Homo sapiens: one gene and its partners. The protein of the gene in region 2 binds, or shares a complex with, the protein of the main gene of each other region. Each region holds a gene or a part of one and is shown on either strand. Other genes may lie near its edges. The genes, in order: PRKAA2, PRKAB2 and PRKAA1. A codon is read from its position in the direction of its gene.

What was found.
Region 1: the proteins of PRKAB2 (region 2) and PRKAA2 are in contact, whole or in part, in a crystal structure (PDB 6B2E), measured with the Homo sapiens proteins. Residues at the interface, in NP_005390.1 of Homo sapiens: Val60, Ser61, Gln64, Glu67, Asp68, Ser69, Thr73, Gln74, Ala76, Pro78, Thr79, Val80, Ile81, Arg82, Ile106, Ser108, Val113, Ile115, Val155, Ser158, Asp159, Phe160, Glu161, Phe163, Asp164, Lys167, Leu168, Gln191, Met193, Tyr194; in NP_006243.2 of Homo sapiens: Gly9 (codon at 2,995), Arg10 (codon at 2,992), Val11 (codon at 2,989), Lys12 (codon at 2,986), Ile13 (codon at 2,983), Thr21 (codon at 2,959), Asn48, Arg49, Val58, Gln66, Gln81, Val82, Ile83, Ser84, Thr85, Pro86, Thr87, Asp88, Phe89, Met134, Met164, Ser165, Asp166, Gly167, Glu168, Phe169, Leu189, Ala191, Glu194, Pro253.
Region 3: the proteins of PRKAB2 (region 2) and PRKAA1 are in contact, whole or in part, in a crystal structure (PDB 4RER), measured with the Homo sapiens proteins. Residues at the interface, in NP_005390.1 of Homo sapiens: Val80, Arg82, Ser84, Ser108, His109, Asp111, Ile115, Ser138, Asp159, Phe160, Glu161, Val162, Ala165, Leu166, Ser182, Ser184, Gly190, Gln191, Glu192, Met193, Tyr194, Ala195, Phe196, Glu199, Arg201, Lys203, Ser204, Pro205, Pro206, Ile207; in NP_006242.5 of Homo sapiens: Gly20, Val22, Lys40, Lys42, Asn59, Arg60, Gln61, Lys62, Val69, Arg73, Val93, Ile94, Ser95, Thr96, Pro97, Ser98, Asp99, Ile100, Met145, Met175, Ser176, Asp177, Gly178, Glu179, Phe180, Arg199, Leu200, Ala202, Pro204, Glu205.

The regions. Positions count from the first base shown.
Region 1 is NC_000001.11:56,641,097-56,648,406, reverse strand, and holds the start of PRKAA2 (5'-AMP-activated protein kinase catalytic subunit alpha-2), read right to left. Parts: upstream 3,094-7,310; 5' UTR 3,020-3,093; coding exon 2,926-3,019; intron 2,655-2,925; exon of another isoform or gene 2,412-2,654; intron 1-2,411. UniProt on the Homo sapiens protein: Catalytic subunit of AMP-activated protein kinase (AMPK), an energy sensor protein kinase that plays a key role in regulating cellular energy metabolism.
Region 2 is NC_000001.11:147,169,441-147,176,875, forward strand, and holds the start of PRKAB2 (5'-AMP-activated protein kinase subunit beta-2), read right to left. Parts: upstream 3,031-7,435; 5' UTR 2,989-3,030; exon of another isoform or gene 2,728-2,988; 5' UTR 2,705-2,727; coding exon 2,549-2,704; intron 1-2,548. UniProt on the Homo sapiens protein: Non-catalytic subunit of AMP-activated protein kinase (AMPK), an energy sensor protein kinase that plays a key role in regulating cellular energy metabolism.
Region 3 is NC_000005.10:40,788,349-40,795,454, forward strand, and holds part of PRKAA1 (5'-AMP-activated protein kinase catalytic subunit alpha-1), read right to left. Parts: intron 1,857-7,106; exon of another isoform or gene 1,723-1,856; intron 1,686-1,722; exon of another isoform or gene 1,604-1,685; intron 1-1,603. UniProt on the Homo sapiens protein: Catalytic subunit of AMP-activated protein kinase (AMPK), an energy sensor protein kinase that plays a key role in regulating cellular energy metabolism.

The DNA of each region.
Region 1 (7,310 bases), about 91 Mb from region 2:
CTATAAAAAGGAACAAATTAATGGCACATGCTATGTCATGCATGAATCTCAAAAGCATTGTTAAAGAAGCTCGACACAAAAGATGACATATTGAACGATCACGTTTATGAAGAAGAGCCTAGAAAAAGCAAATTTATACAGGCAGAAAACAGATTAGTGATTTCCTGGGACTGAGGGTAGAAATGAGATTAACTGTGAATGGGTATAAAGAATCTTACTGTGGTGTCCTCAAATGTCCTAAAACCTATCTATAATGATGGTTGCAACATTTGGCAAAATTAGTAAAAATCACTGAATTGTACACTTAGAATGGATGAATTTCATATATAAAATATACCTAAATAAGTTGTTTTCTTTTCTTTTCTTTTTTTTTTTTTGAGATGGAGTCTTGCTCTGCCGCCCAAGCTGGAGTGCAGTGATGCAATCTTGGCTCACTGCAACCTCTGCCTCTCGGGTCCAAGTGATTCTCCTGCCTCAGACTCCTCAGTAGCTGGGATTACAGGCGCCTACCACCACGCCTGGCTAATTTTTGTATTTTTAGTAGACATGGGGTTTCGCCATGTTGGCCAGGCTGGTCTCAAACTCCTGACCTCAATTGAACCGCCCGCCTCAGCCTCCCAAAGTGCTGGGATTACAGGTGTGAGCCACAGTGCCCAACCATAAAGCTGTTTTCTAACAAAAAAAAAAAACATGACTTTTTGTTTCGCTTGTCCCTTGAAGAATTATATGAGTAACAATTGTACTAATCCTAATCTTGGATAGGAAACCATGGTATCACTTTTGAGAGGATCTAACACAGTGTTAGGAAAACTCCTTCAACTGGTTGTTCATTGGACAGAGGTTCTCCAGGAAAAGAATTTCTCATAAATCAAAGTTCTTTCTGTTTATATTTTAAGAAGCCAGTGCCTGGAAACAATTCAAAAGTACATACAAGAGATTTAAGTTGTCTTTGGCAATGGACTGATTGATCTGATGAGTATTCTACTCTACATTCAGATTACAGTATATGAACTTAAAAAGACAAGCAAAAACTTTTAACACAATATGAAAGGACATAGGGTTAAGTTATATAACTTTGTGTGTACATGTCCAAATGTCAAAGGCGCTGTTTGCTTGAGCAACTGTATAATGTTGTAACACAATAGTCCTTAATAATAATACTAAATGACAAGTAACATTACAGGCATTAATCCAATCCCTGGATTGTCCTGTATTCATCTTAAATACATTCTAACTATCCACTCTACTTATAAGGTCTTTCAAAAATAACCCAGGACTTTATAACCCTCACAGGACAGCAAAGAATTTTACAAACTTTTTAGGTCTTTGCAAAAATACCACCTTGTCTGACCACCTTATTGAAAACTGCCAACCTCACAAGACTCTCTATCTTCCCTTCCCTGATTCGTTTTTCTCAATAAAATTAAACATACCTTTTACATATATATTCTGATTACTGTCTGCCTTCTCCTACTAGAAAGCTAAACAAAAAGATCTGTTTTTTCCTTGCTGTATCCTCATTGCCTAGAACAGTGCCTACCACGTTGCAGGTGCTCAGCGTTTTTTGAACACATGAATGAGTATTAAATATGTGCAAGAAAACAGGAGCTGATTCTTACCAAAGGAATGAAAAATGAGTCTCTTCTACTCATTCAACAGCCTTGACTTGGGGTTAAAATATGAATTTTACAAGGAAATAGAGACCTCAGAATAAAATTTCCAGACTGCCTACCCAGCATTTCTTCAGCAAAGAGAAAAAATAAAGGTCAATATTTCACTTATAATTCTGGATTTGCAACAAAGTATTTTTAATAAACAACTGTCTCTATTCTGGAGAGAAGGCAGGTTAATTAAATCACATGTGACTAATTAACAAAAAAGAAAACAAATGAAAGTTCCATACTTAACTATTCTTACTAGTTACTTAACTCGAATAAAGTATAACATTTCAAAAGCAGCCTGTTTTTCTACATTCAAAAGGGGATCCTATCTCCATGAAGACAGACCTTAGCAGAATATGCCTTAGCAGTCCTGACCTCCTCAGCCTCAAATCCTCCAAACACCAAGGAAACTTTTTCTCTCCCTTACCCTAGAAGTCTTCCCATAGCCATTTTACAAACACAAACACCTTCAGACCTCTCTGTTTTAATTAACCTCTGACCCAATCCAGCTGCATTCCAGCGTTAAACAACACCCCAGGAAGAAAGACTCACAACCTCTGGCCCCTGGAGCATCCCCCAAACAGTCACCCCCAACAACCGAGAGTCCTGGAACGTGAAGGAATCTGGGGATGGCAGGGACCTCCCAGCAAGACCAGAATTGGAGGACATCTTAGACTTCACTCTGGTACTGACCATTTCTGTGTGACCTTGGGCTTGTTACTACATCTCTAGGGGTCCTAGTTTTCTCACCTTTAGGGTGAGGACAACATGTTGACCAAGTCACTGTGAGGATTCAATGAGATTCCATGTAAAGCACCTAACAGGGCACCCGGCACGAAACGGCGCCTCAGTCCTCAGTAGCGTGGATGATCCCCGCCCTAAGCCTACAGGCTCAGAGCTGGAAGGCGCCTCGCAGAACGAGTCCAGTTCTCCCGATTTTGCAGAGGAGGACACTGAGGTCCAGAGAACACAGAAGTGCCTTGCTCCGACCTCCAGAAAGGCAGATGGGCGCGGAACCTGGAACCCAGGACGCCCATCCTCAGCTCACACCCCCGCCCTCTTCCCTGGACCCTGTGGGGCCCGGGCGCCGGTGCCAGGCGAGGCGGTGCGCGCCACCCTCCCGGGGCCCCAGCTCCGCGCGACCCGGGACCGCTCCACCTGCCGCCGAGCCCCGCGCCCGCCGGAGGCCCGGGGCTCCCGCCTCTCCCCTCGGCCTCCCGCAAGTCAGGCAGCCCCGCACAGCGGTCCGGAGCGCGTACTCAACTCTTCACTTTGCCGAAGGTGCCGACGCCCAGCGTGTCGCCCAGCACGTAGTGTCCGATCTTCACCCGCCCGTCGTGCTTCTGCTTCTCAGCCATCTTCGGCGCGCGCGGCCTCGCTCCACCGCCTGCCGCTCCGCGTAGCCGCCGCCGCCGCCGCCTACCCACAGTGCAGCGGGCCCTGCGGGCGAGGGGGCGGACCCCGAGCCGCGAGGGGCGCGGGGCGGGCGCGGGGTCCCGGGAGAGGGCGCTGGGCGCTTCGGGCCCAGGTGGGAAGCAACGGGCGAGCGGCGGGCGGGGCGGGGCCGAGGGAGGGAGCGCGAGGCGCCCGCTCCCGGGAGTGAGAGGCTCCTGCGGCGGAACCCGAAGCAGCGACAGCGGGGGCCGGGGACGCGGGGCGCTGGGCGGGAGTGCGGGAGGGGCTGCGCCAGATGCGCGGGGTCCGAGTGAGGGGCGGAGGCGACAGGTGCTGCGAGGGGGGTAGGCGAGGGTGCCGAGGGAGGCAGGAGGCCCTTTCTGAGGAAAACCGAAGGGGGTGAAAATAGGGGGTGAGACTGGGGCCCGATCCTAGGGAATGGAAAGACTTGGAAGTCAAACTGGAAGAAGAGACGGGCCTCGCATGTCGGGAGCGAGGGGCTGTAAAAGGGAAGAATCGGGAGGGGAGACTGCGGGAAGGGCCCTGGCCAAAGGGGCAGTGGCAGGAGAGCCTCTAGGAAGCTCCTCAAGTCTCGTCTGAGGCTTTTGGATACAGGTCGCGGCACAGGGAGAATGCACGCAGCTCTGTGCTCTCTTGAATTGTCCTCCTCTACTTATTCTGTAATTCCCAATTATTTTGTCCTATAGATGGAAGAGACCCTCTCCGCCAGAGCTCTCAATTTTAACTAATTTGCCCACAGTTTTCCAAAAAATCTCAGTCACGGTATTTGCTCGAGTGTTTTTTAGCACATGCTTATATAAATATGTAGTTTTACCACGCGCTTATATAAACATATAGTACCGAAATGTGATACAGCTGTACAAGAAGGAAATGGGAAAGACGTGGAAAGGGAAACAATGTTCTGCCCACAGAAAGTAAAATACGTAAGCGACAGAGGAATTGTGAAGGGCGAGGCCAGTATAAGGTCACATATTAAAGGAAGAATAAATGTGATATAGAAGTGAAAAGAGTGGTAAGAGGAAATTAGAAGCATGATGCCTAGGCAGCGTGTTCAAAGACTGACCTCCCCACCCTCCCCCACAAAAAAAAAGAAAAAAGACTGGCAAAGAATTAGGTAATAAAGCGATTATCTCTGCCTCTCTTCCTTCTCTCCCGCCCTTCCTTCCCTCCTTCCTTCCTTCCTTTAATGTTGTCTCATTCTTTAATGTTGTTCTGTCTTTCAGTGATTAAAGTTTATTTGCTTCTCACCACACACACAAAAAGATTCGTATACAATATGTTTGTTAATTAGCTTGACTTATAGCCATTCCACAATCAATATATTTCAAAACATATACATACTAAATATATACAATTTTTATTTGCCAATGAAATAAAAAATTTTAAAACAGTAAAAAAAAATTCTGTTTGGGGATAAGTAATTAAGGATTAGTCAAACATTTATAGCACTGCATGCCAGTAGAGTTTCAAGGTCACATTCCTCAAACATGAAGTCTCTTGAACACTGTTTATATGTAAATTGAAATGTATTGATCAAAAAGAATAGGACACAACAAAACTTTGTTTTCTGATAAGTACTAAATATAGAAATTTCAAACATTCATTCTCATCCAAACATCAAGACAATCTGATGAGAGATGATCACAGCTTATAAATTATAGATATCACAGCTGTTAAACAGAGGCTATTTTTGTTCATTCTTCAGATCATCTTTCTTGCTGACAAGTATCATCTAGGAATCACTCTACCTCGCTGGCAATTTTGAGAAAATAGCCAGTTATTTTTGTGCTGAACTTTCATCTGGTTAAGGGTCATTCCTTCAGTAGTCAAGTGAGTAAGAAAAGACCTATTCTGCTTTTGAGGTATGAGATGTATATGTCTTCTGCTCTAATATCCCGTTAAAAGATGTTGAAAAGTCTTCACTTGAAGTTAGATGATTGCTTTCTTGAAGCTACATAAAGACTAACTGTAAATTGAGATTTCAAAGCATTTCGTACTGTCTTAACTATTTGTTGATAAATACTGTAAGTTAAATTATTATATACTTCATAACTATGATTCTTACATAGCTACTGTGGACTACCTTATAGTTTTGTTACTATGTGAAACATCTATGATACTTTGTTGATTAAGAAGTTCATTTAAACACAATTATTTAATTGTCATAAAAGAAAGATTATTATTCCCATTTTATAGATGATAAAACTTAGTTTTTCCCTTTCTGATTTGCCCAGGGCTAAAAAGTGGCAGAGTCAGAACTCATATCCAGTTCTGACTTGTCCTTCAGTCTGCCTACTATACCGCAGCTGCCTATGCCAAAAGAAAGTATGGTGCTCTAAGAAAGTTAAAAATTGTCACAGTTGTGGTTCCATTTTCATATTTTTATTATTTCTTGGGCAGTCCAATAATATATCCTATAAATTTGTAAGTATTTAAACTACTTTTTGTTGTTTTTCTGACTTTTATTTAGAGGAAAGGTTGAATGGTAAGTGGGTAAGAAGGACAACTCTTGGTGGCAGTACTCAGCCCTCTGTTGTCCTGGACACTTCAAGATAAGGTTCCATATTTGCCTCTTCCTATTCAGCAGTAGAAAACTCGACAGTTAATCAGAGTAGATCTCCTTAAGGGTCATGCCTCTTGGAGGTCTCACCCCTAAAGATGACCTGGTAAATGCAATGTTCCCATTTTATTATCTTCCAATGAAGGTTTCACGCCGCTATTGTTTAGTACCAATCTCTAAGACCAGTGCCCCAGGGAGGTGTTCAGTTCTTAGCGCTGGTCCAACTATTGCTGCTTTACCCTCCTGCTTCTGAAACTTTGGGGTTGTTTTACCTTCAAATATTCTAAAATAAGTCCTGAGTAGGACATTAATGCAAGACCACTAAACTAATATACTGTACTAGACACCATTGGTATTATCAGTAACCAATTATTTCAAGTCTTTGCTCACAGTCACCTTCTTGGTGAACCCTACCCTGGCCACCCTATTTAAGTTGCAGTTTCTTTTTTTTTTTTTTTTTTGTAATTTTTTTTAAATTTTTTTTTTTTTTTTTTTTTTTTTTTAGAAGCAGGGTCTCGCCATGTTACCCAGGCTGGTCTCAAACTCCTGGACTCAAGTGATTGTCCTGCCTCAGCCTCTCAAAGTACTGAGATTATGGGCGTGAGCCACCGCACCAGGCCTAAATTGCAGTTTTATCTCACTCATGCTCTCTGCCCTGCACTCTCATCCCCTGACCCTCCTCAACTTTTTTACATAGCACTAGCCATGTAACATACTATTTAATTTATGTGCTTATTATATTTTTGTCTGTTTCTCCCAATTAGAATCTAAACTTCACAAAAGAAGAGAGGCCTTTTTTCTCTATTTTGTTCACTGATGTATCCTTAGCTCCCGGGACAATGCCTGACAAAATATAGATATCCAAGCAGATTCAGAATGTGGCACCTGAAGTTTATTCAGTGTGGGGGAATCTCTTTAAGGGAAAAAAAAAATGCAAAATTGGGTATGAAAGTGAGAATTTGAAGTGAAAAACAACTCTCTACAAATTTATAAAAGCTGACAAATGCCACAAACATCCCCAAATCCAGACAAATAACAATATTTTTATAAATTAATTATCTAACATACCTCTATAATACCTGTTTTCTACATTTTCTGGCTGTATACTCTTTGATTACCTCTTTATATTTTGTAAATTTTTAAATAGAATAGAAAGATAATTCTGACATTAAGCATGATTCATTAAGTTTTTCATCACATGTTTCTTTTTAGGTTTTCCATTGTACATGTTTAATATAGCTAATATAGAATTTATCAATTCTATTATCATATACATTATACATACATATAGATAGATACATATATGTATTTATATTTACATATTATATATGCAAATGATATGTTCATACCCCACTTGCTGTTTCTGGGGCCTAGTGGAACCTGGTATATCATTCCAAAAATATTTGCTAAATTGAATTTTAGAAAGGGTTAGTTACTAAGCTAGAGAATCAAGTAACAACAATACAGGGAAGAGTGCAGTTTTATTTTATGTATACACATATTAAAGGCAAAGCATAATTTTACATCTCAGCACAGCAGTCATTAGTGAGGTTAGAGAGGCATGAGTTAGCACCTTTGAAGTCTATAGATTCATGATATAGGGCTTCTATGGCTGTCTCCAATTTAAAATAAAAAATTTGGACACTCAATGAATAATAAAGGATGTTTATGGT
Region 2 (7,435 bases):
TGCCTAAGAATAACCCTCAGATTCGGATGTAAGATCTGGGAACCTATTTTTAAAAAGCTTTCTAGATAACACTGTGATTATGTTAAAATAAAGGAAAAAAAGCTTCCCAGATATACCGTGATTATGTTAAAATAACAAAGAAAAAACCCTCATCTTTAGAGGTACATCCTAAAATGTTACAGATAAAATAATACTTGATATAATATCTGGGAATTTGCTTCAAAATAACTAGTGGGAGAATAGTGGACTGGGGTATAGATGTTATATGTTCATTCAAGATATGATCATTGTTCAAACTGGGTGGCATGTATATAGATGTCATTATACTGTTTCCCCCTACTTTGAAAGTGTTTCAAATTTTCCAAAAACTATTTAAAGAAATCTGAGGTGATTCTAATGTGCAAACAGGATTGAGAACCACTGAACTAGTCCACTGAAAAAGGCAGGCATTCAAAGCAAAGTAGGCCCCCCTGCCACTGTTTCTGTCAGTTACTTTTATGACAGGATTTTCAGTTTAGAATTTGAAAGCTACAAACTATTAATATGCCTAGCTTTGGAGGAAAGCCCTTCCACTTATGACATGACATTTCTGTAGTAGGAATGAATGCAACTGACTAGCAGAAAGATTGTTTACTCCAAGTTACTCAGCAAAACTACCAGGAAAAGAGGCAAAACGACAATCAGAACTACAGTTTGATGTTTAAGTAAAATGTTGAGTTTAGAAGTAAAGAGGCTACATTGAGAACTATAAAATTTTAGACTTAAATGAGACCTTAGGAATTATCTGATTTTCAGACAATCTGAAAATTATATGAATAATTTTCTTAATTCACAAATGCCAAGACTGAGGTGAGAGATAAGAATAATACAAAATAGGCCCCAATTCAGACAGAGCAACCTGGCTTTTAATCAGGACACCAATTACTGCAGTCACAGTTCGACAAATACACTGTATTTAAATCCTGAGTCATCAACATAGGAAAAGGGTAAAAATATAATGAGGCGGATCACCTTTCGAAAGCTTTGAAGAAGTAAATTCAGATGGCTTGTAGATAGCCCAAATAAGAATGGAGAATTGGAGAATAAACCCCAATAAGTGCTCCTTTTAATCACTCTCACTTCTCTGTGATTATGGTTGGTTTTTTTGTTTTTTTGTTTTTTTGTTTTGAGAGTCTGTCACCCAGGCTGGAGTGCAGTGGTTTGATCTAAACTCACTGCAACCACCGCCTCCCGGGTTCAAGCGATTCTCCTGCCTCAGCCTCCCGAGTAGCTGGGACTACAGGCATGCACCAGCATGCCCGGCTACTTTTTCTGTATTTTTAGTAGAGACGGGGTTTCACCATGTTGGTCAGGCTGGTCTCGAACACCTGACCTCAAATGATCCAACCGCCTCGGCCTCCCAAAGTGCTGGGATTACAGGCGTGAGCCTCTGCGCCAGGCTGTGATGATGTTATCAATTGAGATCCAAAGAAATAAATCATGGAATCCAAATTCCATGTGCTACCAATATGGCAAACAATACTCTATTCACTCTCTAAAGCCCCAGTTCCCTGGGAAGTGATGAAATGATAGGAAACATCAAACACACCCGAATCTCCTCAAGCCCTCCATTTTTCTATCTCATCCAGTCAGTCTACCTGGAGGAATTACTTGTATTTCATGCTGACAGCTCTGAAAGCCATTAGAAACATTAGAATGGTAATCGCTGCTATCAGCTCCATCTGTCCTTTCTTACAGAGTGAAAACAAGTTGTTCTCTTCCTGAAAGTCCTTGGAATTGAGAGCAAGGTCTTCAGGGCAGCTGTGGGTTGTCGTTTTTTTAGCCACGCAACATTTTGAAGTACTACTGAGGAGTAAACAAGTCGTGGAATCATTGGCTCTTCCACCTACGGAGCAGCAGCGGGGCGTGAAAGAGGCACAGCCTCAGCCACCACAACTATAAAGTATGGGACAAAAATTAAGCAGTCAACTAAATGATGTCCTTAATTGATCCCCAAGACTAGGAGAAAGTATTCAATAAGCAAGTAGTTGCTGCTTACAGCCGTGCCAAAAGGGAAGAGGATCACAACTGTAGAGCTGCTAGAAGAGCAAAAATGATACTGATACATAGAAATTTTCAGAAAAAGAATTTCATTTAGCCACCTCAGGGCAAAGGTGAGAAACTACCACCTATGGTCAGCAACTCGTGCAACCTACCCTCTGAAGTTGTCCACCAGGGATTACAAACTACAAATTCAGCAACGCTATGGAAGAGAGCCATTCGTGCTCGGAGGATCGGGGATGGGGGGATGTCTATTGTCCCCATCCTAAAAATGTGGCCAACAGATTAGTCAGAACACCAGGAAAGCAAGAACTCCGCCTCTTTATCCTATTTTGAGGCGGCACTTCAAGAGGAATTATCATCCAACACCTCTGTCCCCGATAAATCCCTTTAATTCAAAAAACCATAGCCCGGTTCGGCGCGGTAGAAAAGAACCAAGAAAGGGAAGAGGAGCCCAGAAATCAACCCGCTGCAGTACTGACACCAACTGCGGGCATGGGACGCTTACCTTGGAGTCAGGGAGGCTGAACACGCTGGGGTCGTCCGTACTCCCCACCATGATCTTGTGCTCCTTCCCCGGGGCATGGCCGCCTGCGCCCTCGGAGCGTGCAGCCTTGGCGCCGTGGCGCTCCCCGGACACCCGGTCGCTGGTGGTGTTTCCCATGGCTGCAGCTCGTCGGGGACCACCTACCGCGGGGAACGACACCGGGCTGGGAACACCTCAGCCGCCGCGTCAGGGGCGCCCCCCGGCCCCGCCCCTGCGCCTCGGGACAGGGCAAGGGATTCCCCGCCCCAGGGAAGCCGAGCCCTGGAGCCCTCTCCCTCCTGGCCTGCGGGAACGCCTGCAAATACCCCGGTGCCCTCACTGGCCCTAGCTCAGGAAACCCGCTATCGGGACCTCCCCCGCGTCCCCGCGCTCACTGCCAGGGGCGCCCCCACTCCAGTCACCTCGGGCGATGCGCTCCCTCCTCCAAGGGCCACTGATGTGATGGCTGTTCTGCAGATCAGGCCACCAATAAAGTTATTGAAATTGAAGCCGCACCCCTCGCTGGCGACCAGCGATTCCTCCTAAAATGGCTACAAGGCCGGCGGCGCGGAGTCCGCCCAGTGCGCGTTCCCTGCGGCCTGCAGCCTCGGCGCCCGGGACCCGCCGGCCTCTCTAGCCGCCGCCGCCGCCGCCTCGATGGTGGGCAGTCGCACGCAGCCTCCAGCGCCAGGAGGGGGCGCCAGGCAGGGCCTGTCCCGCCTGGGGAGACTGCGCCCGGGATAATAGGAGCGCTTGGCCTCTGAGACTACCCGGCAGAAGGGACGTCCCCAAATGACACTCGGAGGCCGCCTCCCTGGGCTCCGGTGCTCGGTGCCGGGAGGAGCGGCACGGCTTTCTACCCCGCCTCAGGTGCGCCAGCACGTTTTCTGGGCAGCATCTGTGTGTTAGGCGACCGGAGAGGTGGGTTCCTTATAGGGAATAAGAAAACTGAAACTGACTTCCAACTGCAGGCAGAAGGAAGCAGTGGTCATTGCTGGAGGTTAAAACTGTTCTGACCGGGCGCAGTGGCTCACGCCTGTATTCCCAGCACTTTGGGAGGCTGAGGCGAGCAGATCACGAAGTCAGGAGATCAAGACCATCCTGGCCAACAAGGTGAAACCCCGGCTCTACTAAAAATACAAAAATTAGCTGGGCGTGGTGGCGCGCGCCGGAAGTCCCAGCTACTTGGGAGGATGAGGCAGAAGAATCGCTTGAACCCGGGAGGCGGAGGTTGCGGTGAGCCGAGATCGCGCCATTGCACTCCAGCCTGGCGACTCAGCGATACTCCGTCCCCCTCTCCCCGCCCCAAGAAAAATCTGTTCAGTGGGGAGCGACAAGGAAGGAGCTTTCAGCCCGACTGGGGTCGCAGGGAAGAATTCAAGATGGCGTGTTTAGGAGCTCTAGCTCCTTGACAAATTAGTAAAATGTTAGTCTTAGGAGAAGAACGAAAAGGCTCTCCTAGGCTAAGAAACAGCATACACAGTGAGAAACCTCAGAAGAAATAAAATTCAAGGAAGATAGCAACAACGAAAACATCAGAAGGAACACTAAAGGTATAAAAAGGGCAAAGACAGCCCTAGGGTTGGGAGGGATCCAGGTTTTTTATGAAAATTAGTGGAATCCCTAAGGTACTTACCTTTGTATTATAAGTATTTGCATGTCTCCTTCTAGAAACGTTTATCACTCTGTGTTACACAGACCAGCAGTGTTGGCGTCAACTGGGAGCCTGTTAGAAATGCAGAATCAGGCCCCATCCCCAGGGTTCTGAATCTGCATTTTAACAAGATCACATTAAAGTGTGTGAGAAGCAATGCTTTGACAGCTGGCAGAGAGCAGATCCAGATTTGATACCTTTTCATATTCTGCATGTACCTTATACAGAGTAGGCTTTTGCATTTGCGGAATGAAGGATACAGGAATACTGTTTACTGTAATCCATTTCTAACCAGATATGCCACTTAGGCTTAAACACGGCCAATGATGGGGAACCCCAAGTTACATAGGCCACCCTTTCTGAGTGAGCAGCTCTATTTGCTGAAACGTTCATTTTTATATTATGAAGTTGACATCCCACTTAAGTACAACAAATTCACTACTCCCCTATTCTTTGCTCTGCCTCTTATAAACTCATTCTTTGGCTCATAAACCAAAGACAGTTTACAGGAAGAAAAAAAAAAGGTACGATTTTACTGCAACTTCTTGCTCACCCCTCCAAAATCTTTATGTCTGAGTACATGCTTTTTGGTTATCCCTACTTTTCTCCCTCCACCCCTCAATTCCTTACCATAGGACACTGAAGCAAGGCCCTTGAAGATACATAATACATTAAACCTTGACTTGTGTAGTATTCAGTTTTCTGACCCCAAGGTGGTTTCACCATGCCAAATAATATGTCCTTGGTATGTATTTCCTTGCAGTAGTCAAATCAGCCTAGCAGAAACAAAGTACGTTAACCAATGGAAAACTGACGGAGAGAAATAAACTGTTTTTGCACAGCTAAATGGAAATGACTTTTGAATTATCTGCTTTGGAAGATTATCCATGACACTGTTCTGCCCTGCTCTGCTCTAACAACATTTGTAAGTCACTCAACAGTTAATAATAAAAGTCAGTTTTGAATATTGCAGGTTTTAGACACAGAACAAATGTAATGTGACACTGTAGGAAGAATGAATTCTCCTTAGTCCCAAATTCCTTTTTTTTTTCTTAGATTCGGGAATAAGTAAAGATACAAGATCCTCTTAACCAGTATCAGTATAATTGTTCCCTTTAGATTTATTGCTGTCACCCCAATGCTCTTCTTTCTTTCTAGAGGAAAGGAAAAGAAGGAGGTAATAGGAAAAGTAATGGGTTGTCCTGATGTTACTGTGTCTAGGATGTCATTGCCACTGGTCTCCTCAGATCAATCATTCTGCCTAATAAACAGAAAAATAACATGGGCAGCCTCACATGCAAGCCTTTACACACACTGCTAAAGAGACCTCGCTTCCTCTGAGAAGTGAGGATGTGAGAATGAAGGATTGATTTTACAGAACTGGATGACAGGTTAAATTGGGCATCTGGAGGTTTATATTCCCATCTCCACTCACCAAGTTTCATCCTCCATTTATGACCAAGGATAGGTATAACATCTGATCTTGATGGTTACTGTTTCAAAAAACAATCTGATCTTTTTTATAAAGTTAAACATTTACTTAATCATGCAGCATACTAATTCCCACTCCTGGGTATTTATCCGAGTGACATAAAAACAAGTTCACACAAAACCTGTAAACACATATATGTCTTTATTCATATAATAGAAAAAACACAAACCCTAAAATGGAAAAAACATAATGTCCTTCACCTGGTGATATGGTTTGGTTCTGTGTCCCCACCCAAATCTCATCTCAAATTGTAATACCCACGTGTTGAAGGAAGGACCTATAACCTTCACGTGTCAAGGGAGGGAAGTGATTGGATGATGGGGGCGGTTTCCCCCATGCTGTTCTTGTGATGGTGCATGAATTCTCACCAGAGATGATGGTTTTAAAAGTGTTTGGCAGTTCTTCCTTCATTCACACACACTCACTGTCTCTCCCCTGTGCCACATAAGATGAGCTTGCTTCCCTTCTACCATAACTGTAAGTTTCTGAAGTCCTCCCCAGCCATGCAGAACTATAAGTAAATTAAACCTCTTTTCTTTATAAATTACCTAGTCTCAGGTATGTCTTTATAGCAGTGTGAAAATAGGCTAATACATCTGGTGAATCAATAATTAAAATGTAGCATAGCTATAAATGGAATACTACTCAGTAATAAAAGAATAACTCGATACATACAATAATATTGATGAATCTCAAATGCATTATGGGAAGTAAAAGAAGCCAGGCTCCACTTATGTGACATTCTGGAAAAAGGAAGACTATACGGTCAGAAAACAGATCAGTGTTTGCCAGGACTTGGGGGTGGGGGGTGGGGAGTGATTGACTACAAAAGGGCATGAAGAAATTTTGAAGGGGAGGTATGGAACAGGTCTGTATCTTGACTGCAGTGGAGTTATTGATACTTACCAAACTGTACAATAAAAAGTAAATTTTTATTGTATGAAAATTATGCCTAAATTAAAAACTATTAATAAAATCAGCATTAGCAAAATATATGAGTTTATACACAAGAGACTACTCAACCATTGGGTAAACTAATTATTTTTAAACAAATACCATTGATTTTAATCTTTTTATAGTTTTTATACAGGCAGAGAAATAATAGTGATTCTGCTCACCTAAAGGAAGATAGACCCAATTCAAAGGTACAGAATTTTCCCCAAATAGTATCATAATTTTTCCTTTCAGATTCCAAAGGATTTGCATGTAAATTCTATCATGTGATCCTCAGAACCACCCTATGAGGGTAAGCAGAACAGATGATCCATGATATTCCATTTTATAAATGAGGTGCAGGTTAAATATTTAGCCAGTATTTCTTGATAAGTATAGTCCATTTATTTCAACAAACCTTGATTGAGGGCCCCAATACTTGTTGAGCTTTTGCTGAGCCACCCCTGCTCTAGAGGAGCACATGCTCTGGAAATCTCTAAGGAAACTACTACAACTCTAAATAGATATGGTGTATAGTGATACTGTGACTAAATATTCACTGCAAATTTCCTCTAAAATTATAGATATACATTACTGGAATAATTAGTATCTCAACATCTTCATTAACTATGAATCTACTATGTATATATCATCACCATGTGAGTATTAATTTGGTACAAATAGGCTGCCAACTCTAAAATTATTTGATGTAGGGCAAGTACTTTTATCTTTTTAGCCATAAATTTTCTCATCTGTAAAATGAGAGGAGTAGGCATGTGATCATTAAATC
Region 3 (7,106 bases), on a different chromosome or scaffold from region 2:
CCCCTTAACAAGTATCAACTTAAAATGGATTAAATTTAGGACCTGAAATTACAAATCTACTAGAAGAAAACTTAGGCGAGAAGCTCCATGACACAGGTTTGGGCAATCATTTCTTGTATATGATCCCCTAATGCACAGGCAACAAAAGCAATAATAAACAAATGGGATGACATCAAACTAAAAAGCTTCTGAACAGCAAAAAACAAACAAACAGGCCAGACGCGTAATCCCAACACTTTGGCAGGCCGAGGCAGGCGGATCACAAGGTCAGGAGTTCGAGACCAGCCTGACCAACATGGTGAAGCCCTATCTCTACTAAAAATACAAAATTAGCTGAGCGTAGTGGTGCACACCTGTAGTCCCAGCTACTCATGAGGCTGAGGCAAAAGAATCGCTTGAACCCGGGAGGCGGACGCTGCAGTGAGCCAAGATCACGCCATTGCACTCCAGCCTGGGTGACAGAGGGAGACTGCATCTCAAAAAAACAAACAAACAAGCAAAAACAAATAGAGTGAAGAGACAACCCAAAGACTGAGAAAACGTATTTACAAATCATGCATCAGATATATAGCTAATATCCGGCCAGGCATGGTGGCTCATGCCTGTAATCTCAGCACTTTGGGAGGCCGACGCGGGTGGATCACTTGAGCCCAAGAATACAAGACCAGTCTAAGCAACACAGTGAGACCTTGTCTCTATAAAACATACATAAATTAGCCAGGCGTGGTGGTGTATGCCTGTAGTCCCAGCTACTTGGGAGGCAGAGGTGGGAGGATCGCTTGAGCCCAGGAGGTCAAGGCTGCAGTGAGCCATGATCATGCCACTGCACTCCAGCCTGGGCAACAGAGTGAGACACTGTCTCAAAAATAAAAATAAAAAAAAAGACAAACAAATGGCCAACAGATAGATGAAAGAATGCTGAACATCTCTAATCATAAGAGAAATGCAAATTAAAGCCACAATAAGGTATCACCTCACACCTGTTAGACTGGCTATTATCAAAAAGGTGAAAGATAAGTGTTAGCAAGGTCACAGAGAAATGGAACACTTATACACTGCTGGTGAAACTATAAATACAGCCATTTTGTAAAACAGTGTAGAGGTTCCTCACAAAACTAAAAATAGAATTACTATATGATCCAGCAATCCCATTACTGAGTATATATCCAAAGGAATTGAAATCAGTATGTCAGAGGTGTCTGAGACTCACTTATATTTGGAATCTAAAAAAGTCAAACTCACAGAAGTAGAGAGTAGAATGGTGATTACCAGTAGCTGGGGTAAGTGGGGCTGGAGGGGAAAAGGAAGATATTGGTCAATGGCTACATAAAATTACAGTCAGGAGGAACAGGATCCTGGTGTTGTATTGCATAGCATCATGATTACAGTAAATATATTAATTTTTCAAAAGAGTTAAAAAAGGGAACTTTAAATGTTCTCACCACAAAGAAATGATAAATATTTGAGGAGATGGATATACTACTTGGCCTGATTTGATCAGTGCAGAATGTATACATGTATCAAAACATCACATTGTGCCCCATAAATATATACAATTGTTATTTATTAAAGATAGATTTTCTTTTTTATTTACTTATGGTAGGAATGGCCTTCATTGGTTGCAATAGGAAGCGAAAGAGGAGACCTGAAATCAAATGAAAAAGCGTAAGCATCCTGGGGAGAAGCCCACTGGATCTCAGTTCTGCCCTGCTCAGGAAAGTTCAGTATCCAGGTGACTGAGAACAGAACCGGCTGGCACCAAAGACATGATTTTGAGGGGGCCGGAGCCCTTTCCCTTTGCCTCCATACATAACAGGAGCAGGACCACACACTCAGTCCCTGACAAGAAAAGGAGGGTGGATTTTCTAAACTATGATATTCACCATTAAAATTAACAAGTTAACAGAAGTAATATTTTTTGAAAACAGGTTTTCTAATTGTACTACACATGATCATGACTTCTTAAATGGAACACATGTACATGAAGACTGGGAACCAAACAAATGTTAACTTATGAGTATCAACTGCTCCTTATACCCTCACACAGTGACAGCAGTGGGAGTTATTTAGCAGGATAGGGCTTTTTGCTCCCAGCCTATAGTGTTCCAGCTCGTGTGGTTTTCCGCTTTTTGAATTTGTATCCCAGCCTTCATAGTCTATCAGGAGTCAACTCTTTCTTTTTTTTTTTTTTTGTTGTTGTTGTTGTTGTTGAGATGGAGCCTCGCTCTGTCGCCAGGCTGGAGTGCAGTGGCACAATCTCGGCTCACTGCAACCTCTGCCTCCGGGGTTCAAGCAATTCTCCTGCCTCAGCCTCCCGAGTAGCTGGGACAACAGGCGCATGCCACCACACCCAGCTGATTTTTGTATTTTTAGTAGAGATGGGGTTTCACCATGTTGGCCAGGATGGTCTCAATATCTTGAGCTCGTGATCTGCCCGCCTTAGCCTCCCAAAAGTGCTGGGATTACAGGCGTGAGCCACCACACCCGGCCTTCAGTAGCATAATACTTTTTAAAATATGGCATCTAATAGCTTAGGAGACACTCACATTATCACATTTGAGCATAAACCTATGATGGAGGTATTGTCTTTTACAGATAAAGAAACTGAGGCTCTAAGAGATTCTGTAAGTTGTGGAAGTAAAGCTATTGTGATCAAGTTGGGACAGGTCTTCCGACTCCCAAGTCTTTTGACCTATCCACTCTCCCCACCATCACTGTGCAGTGAGAGGGACAAAGGGCTTGGCATGGTATCAGAAACTAAACTGTTTTCTCAAAACCAGGCTAAATATTCTCCCCAGTGAGTAAACTCAGTTGTAGCCAAACTAAATGCTGTTCCATAGTCAATCAATGAATGTAGTAAATGGACTCTGTCAGGCATATGCACTACTAAGGGATTCCCCCCTTTTTCAAAATTCAAACTTTATTCTTCAGACTGTCAGTTTTTAGAATAGTGCTAAGGTTTTGCTTTTAAATGAAACGGAAGACAGATATTTTGGCCACGGAAGACTTGCACATTACTCAGAGCAAATATTACCAGCATTCACAATGTCCCCCTCACAAGAATAGCAGATTAGTCAACTAAATATTAGCTAACAACCATGCTATTGCTATCTAAAGGGAACTTTGTCTAACTGCATAACATTGTAACAAATGCTCTTCTAATTAGATATATAATCCTGAAGGGAAACAAGATCATACTTTGAAACAGAGGATTTTAATAGGACAGAGAAGCAGCAAAGATAGAAATATCTACTAAAGATATTCTAGACACCTAACCATTTCATTCCCACTTTAAAATTGAAAGAATAAAAACGTGTTAAGGAAATAGCTTAATCCTGGGGAAGGGTGGGCTTTAAAAGCTATAGATCGTAATTTAAGAAAGCAAACAAACATTTCAAGCACACCAAGGGCATTCCAAATACCCATGAGCCACCATCAGCTTAAGCAATAAAACATTACAAATACAACTCAAGCCCTGCATGACTCCTCCCAGATTCCCTTATCCTTCATCTGTCCTCAGAAGTAACCACTATCCTGAATTTGGTGTTTGTGTTTCCCACGTTTAAATATTTTTACATGGGTAGGAATCCATAAAAAATATAGTAACATTATTTTTCATATTTATTTTTACAAATGTCATTGCATATATTTTGATAACACAATACCTGCACTATACACACAGTTCAAAAGTACAAAAGCATCTATGGTGCAACACAATGTCCTCCTTTACCTAGTCCCCTATACTGAGCAACTAACGTAACCAGTCTTGTGTGTATCTTTAAAGAGACATACTCTATATATAAAAGCAGTCACATTTAAGATACAGATTTGCCCCTGCCTTTTATACATAAGTGGTAGGCATATTGAACACACTGTTCTACTTTTTCCTCTTAAAAATACACCTTGGAAATTGTTCTCTAAAATATACAAAGTTCCTCCCTTTTTCTTCCTTAATGTTTGCAAGGTATTTCACTATATGGATAAACCATAACTATTACTATTAGAAAGGTTACTTCGAAAGTTTTGTATTAATATTTACAACAATATGGCAGCGAATAACCCATTATTTCATACACGAGTACATCTATAAAATAATTCCTAGAAGTTGAATTGTTAGGTTAATTTTAATAAATGCTGTCACTCTCTCATGTAGAGGTAGGATACCAATTTATACTCTACCAGCATTGTATGAGTGGTTCTGTAGGTTTCTAAAATTTATATAAATAACAGCAAACTATACATATTCTTATACAACTTGCTTTCGAGGTCTAACCTTATATTTTTAAGATTCATTCACACTGATATATATAGCTCTAGTTCATGTTTATAATTTTTACTTAAAGGAATTTTTAAATAACTTCTACTATGATTCATTCACAAAGTACCTATGTAGCTGAAATTGCAGTTTTACACAGAAATACTTACGAACTTAGGCCAAGCATGGTGGCTCATGCCTGTAATCCCAGCACTGTGGGAGGCTGAGGTGGGTGGATCACCTGAGGTCAGGAGTTCGAGACTAACCTGGCCGACGTGGTGAAACCCCATCTCTACTAAAAATACAAAAAAAAAATAGCTGGGCGTAGTGGTGGGCGCCTATAATCCCAGCCACTTGGGAGGCTGAGGCTGGAGAATCGCTTGAACCCGGGAGGTGGAAGTTGCAGTGAGCTGAGATCGCACCATTGCACTCCAGCCTGGGCGACAAGAGTGGAACTCCATCTCAAAAAAAAAAAAAGAAAAAGAAAAAAAAGAAATACTTGCCAACTTAATAGTTTATATGTATAAATAACTCATTTGCCGAAGATACACCCAGCCTACCAAAGAGACCATCTTCTCTAGAAAAACTAACAAAGACTGCCATTTTAATGATATTACTCTGCTCATCCATGCTTTTTTTGGGCAGAGGGAAGGCCCACAAGGGCACAGAACCTAACATCTTGATAACTAGAAGGAAAAAAAAAAGATGCCTTGGAAACAATAAAGACAATTCAAGCATAATCACAAAATAACCCTAGTTTTCTGTAAACTTTCCTCTCAAAATGCTACCACTAAGTAACCAAACAAATTTTTTGGCCTGTAACAGGAAACAATCACTCCGAACTTCCAGCCTACTCTCCCCGCAAAATTAAATTTCCTATAAGCATGGAATATCATACTTAGACTTTTTCTGCATATCAATATCATATATTTTATTAGATCCCTCTTCATGTTAAATTTACCAATATGTATAAGTAATTTTTAAAGCTTTCTTTACTCCAAATTGTCTAAACATATGGTTAACCCTATTATTTGCAAGAATTCTTGCATAATTAAGGCTGTTGGTGTTTAATTACCAACATCACCACAATAGTGGCCATTTCTGTGTGTTCACTGAGTATCCATGTCCCCCTTTCTCTCTCCTAACAACATCCATTTATGTGTAGGTGTCTACCCTGTCCCCCCACACTATCCAAGTACTTAGAAGATGTCTCCCAGCCCAGCACGGTGGTTCAGGCCTGTAATCCCAGCACTTTGGGAGGCCGAGGCGGGTGGGATCACCTGAGGTCAGGAGTTCAAGACCAGCCTGGCCAACATGATGAAACCCCATCTCTACTAAAAATACAAAAATTAGCAGGACGTGGTGGCACACGTCTGTAATCCCAGCTACTAGGGAAGTTGAGGCAGAAGAATCACTTGAACCTGGGAGGCAGAGGTTGCAATGAGCTGAGATTGCGCCAATGCACTCCAGCCTGGGTGACAAGAGCAAAACTGTCTCCAAAAAAAAAAAAAAGTGTTCCCTGTTCACCACATGCACACTAAAATCTATCTACTGCTTTTTGATTTTTTGATGATGGCCATTCTTGCAGGAGTGAGGTGGTATCACATTGTGGTTCTGATTTGCATTTCCCTGATCATTAGGGATGCTGAGCATTTTTTCATGTTTGCTGGCCATTTGTATATCTTCTTTTGAGAACTGTCTATTCATATCCTTAGCCCACTTTTTGATGGGACTATTTGTTTTTTCTTACTTATTTGTTTGAGTTCATTGTGGATTCTGGATATTAGTACTTTTTCAGATGTATTGATTAGGAAGATTTTCTCCCACTGTGTGGGTTGTCTGTTTACTCTGCTGTTCCTTTTCCTGTGCAAAAGCTCTTCAATTTAATTAGGTCCCATCTATTTATCTTTGTTTTTATTGCATTTGCTTTTGGGTTCTTAGTCATTAAATCCTTGCCTAAGCCAATGTCTAGAAGGGTTTTTCCAATGTTATCTTCTAGAATTTTTATAGTTTCAGGTCTTAGGTTTAAGTCCTTAATCCATCTTGAGTTGATTTTTATATAAGGTTGAGAGATGAGAATCCAGTTTCATTCTCCTACATGTGGCTGGCCAATTATCCCAGCACAATTTGTTGAAAAGGGTGAACAGGGAACACTTCTACACTGCTGGTGGGAATGTAAACTAGCACAGCTGCTATGGAAAACAGTGTAGATATTCCTTAAAGAACTAAAAGTAGAACTACCATTTGATCCAGCAATCTCTTCTGAAAAGAAGTCATTATTCGAAAAAGATACTTGCACATGCATGTTTATAGCAGCACAATTCACAATTGCAAAATCGTGGAACCAATCCAAATGCCCATCACTCAATGTATGGATAAAGAAACTGTGGTGTATACATATATATACACACACACACACACACACACACACAAAATGGAATACTACACAGCCATAAAAAGGAATGAATTAACAGCATTTGCAGTGACTTGGATAAGAGTGGAGACTATTATTCTAAGTGAAGTAACTCAGGAATGGAAAACCAACACAGTATGTTCTAATCACTGATATGTGGGAGCTAAGCTATGAGGACGCAAAGGCATAAGAATGATACAGTGGACTATGGGGACTTGAGGGGGAAGAGTGGGAGAGGGGTGAGGGATAAAAGACTACAAATATGATGCAATGTATACTGCTCAGGTGATGGGTGCACCAAAATCTCACAAATCACCACTAAAGAATTTACTCATGCAACCAAATACCATCTGTACCCCAATAACTTAAAGAAAAATTTAAAAAATAAAACAAATTTTAAAAAAAAGATGTCTCCCACCCACCCACCTCTGTTGCACA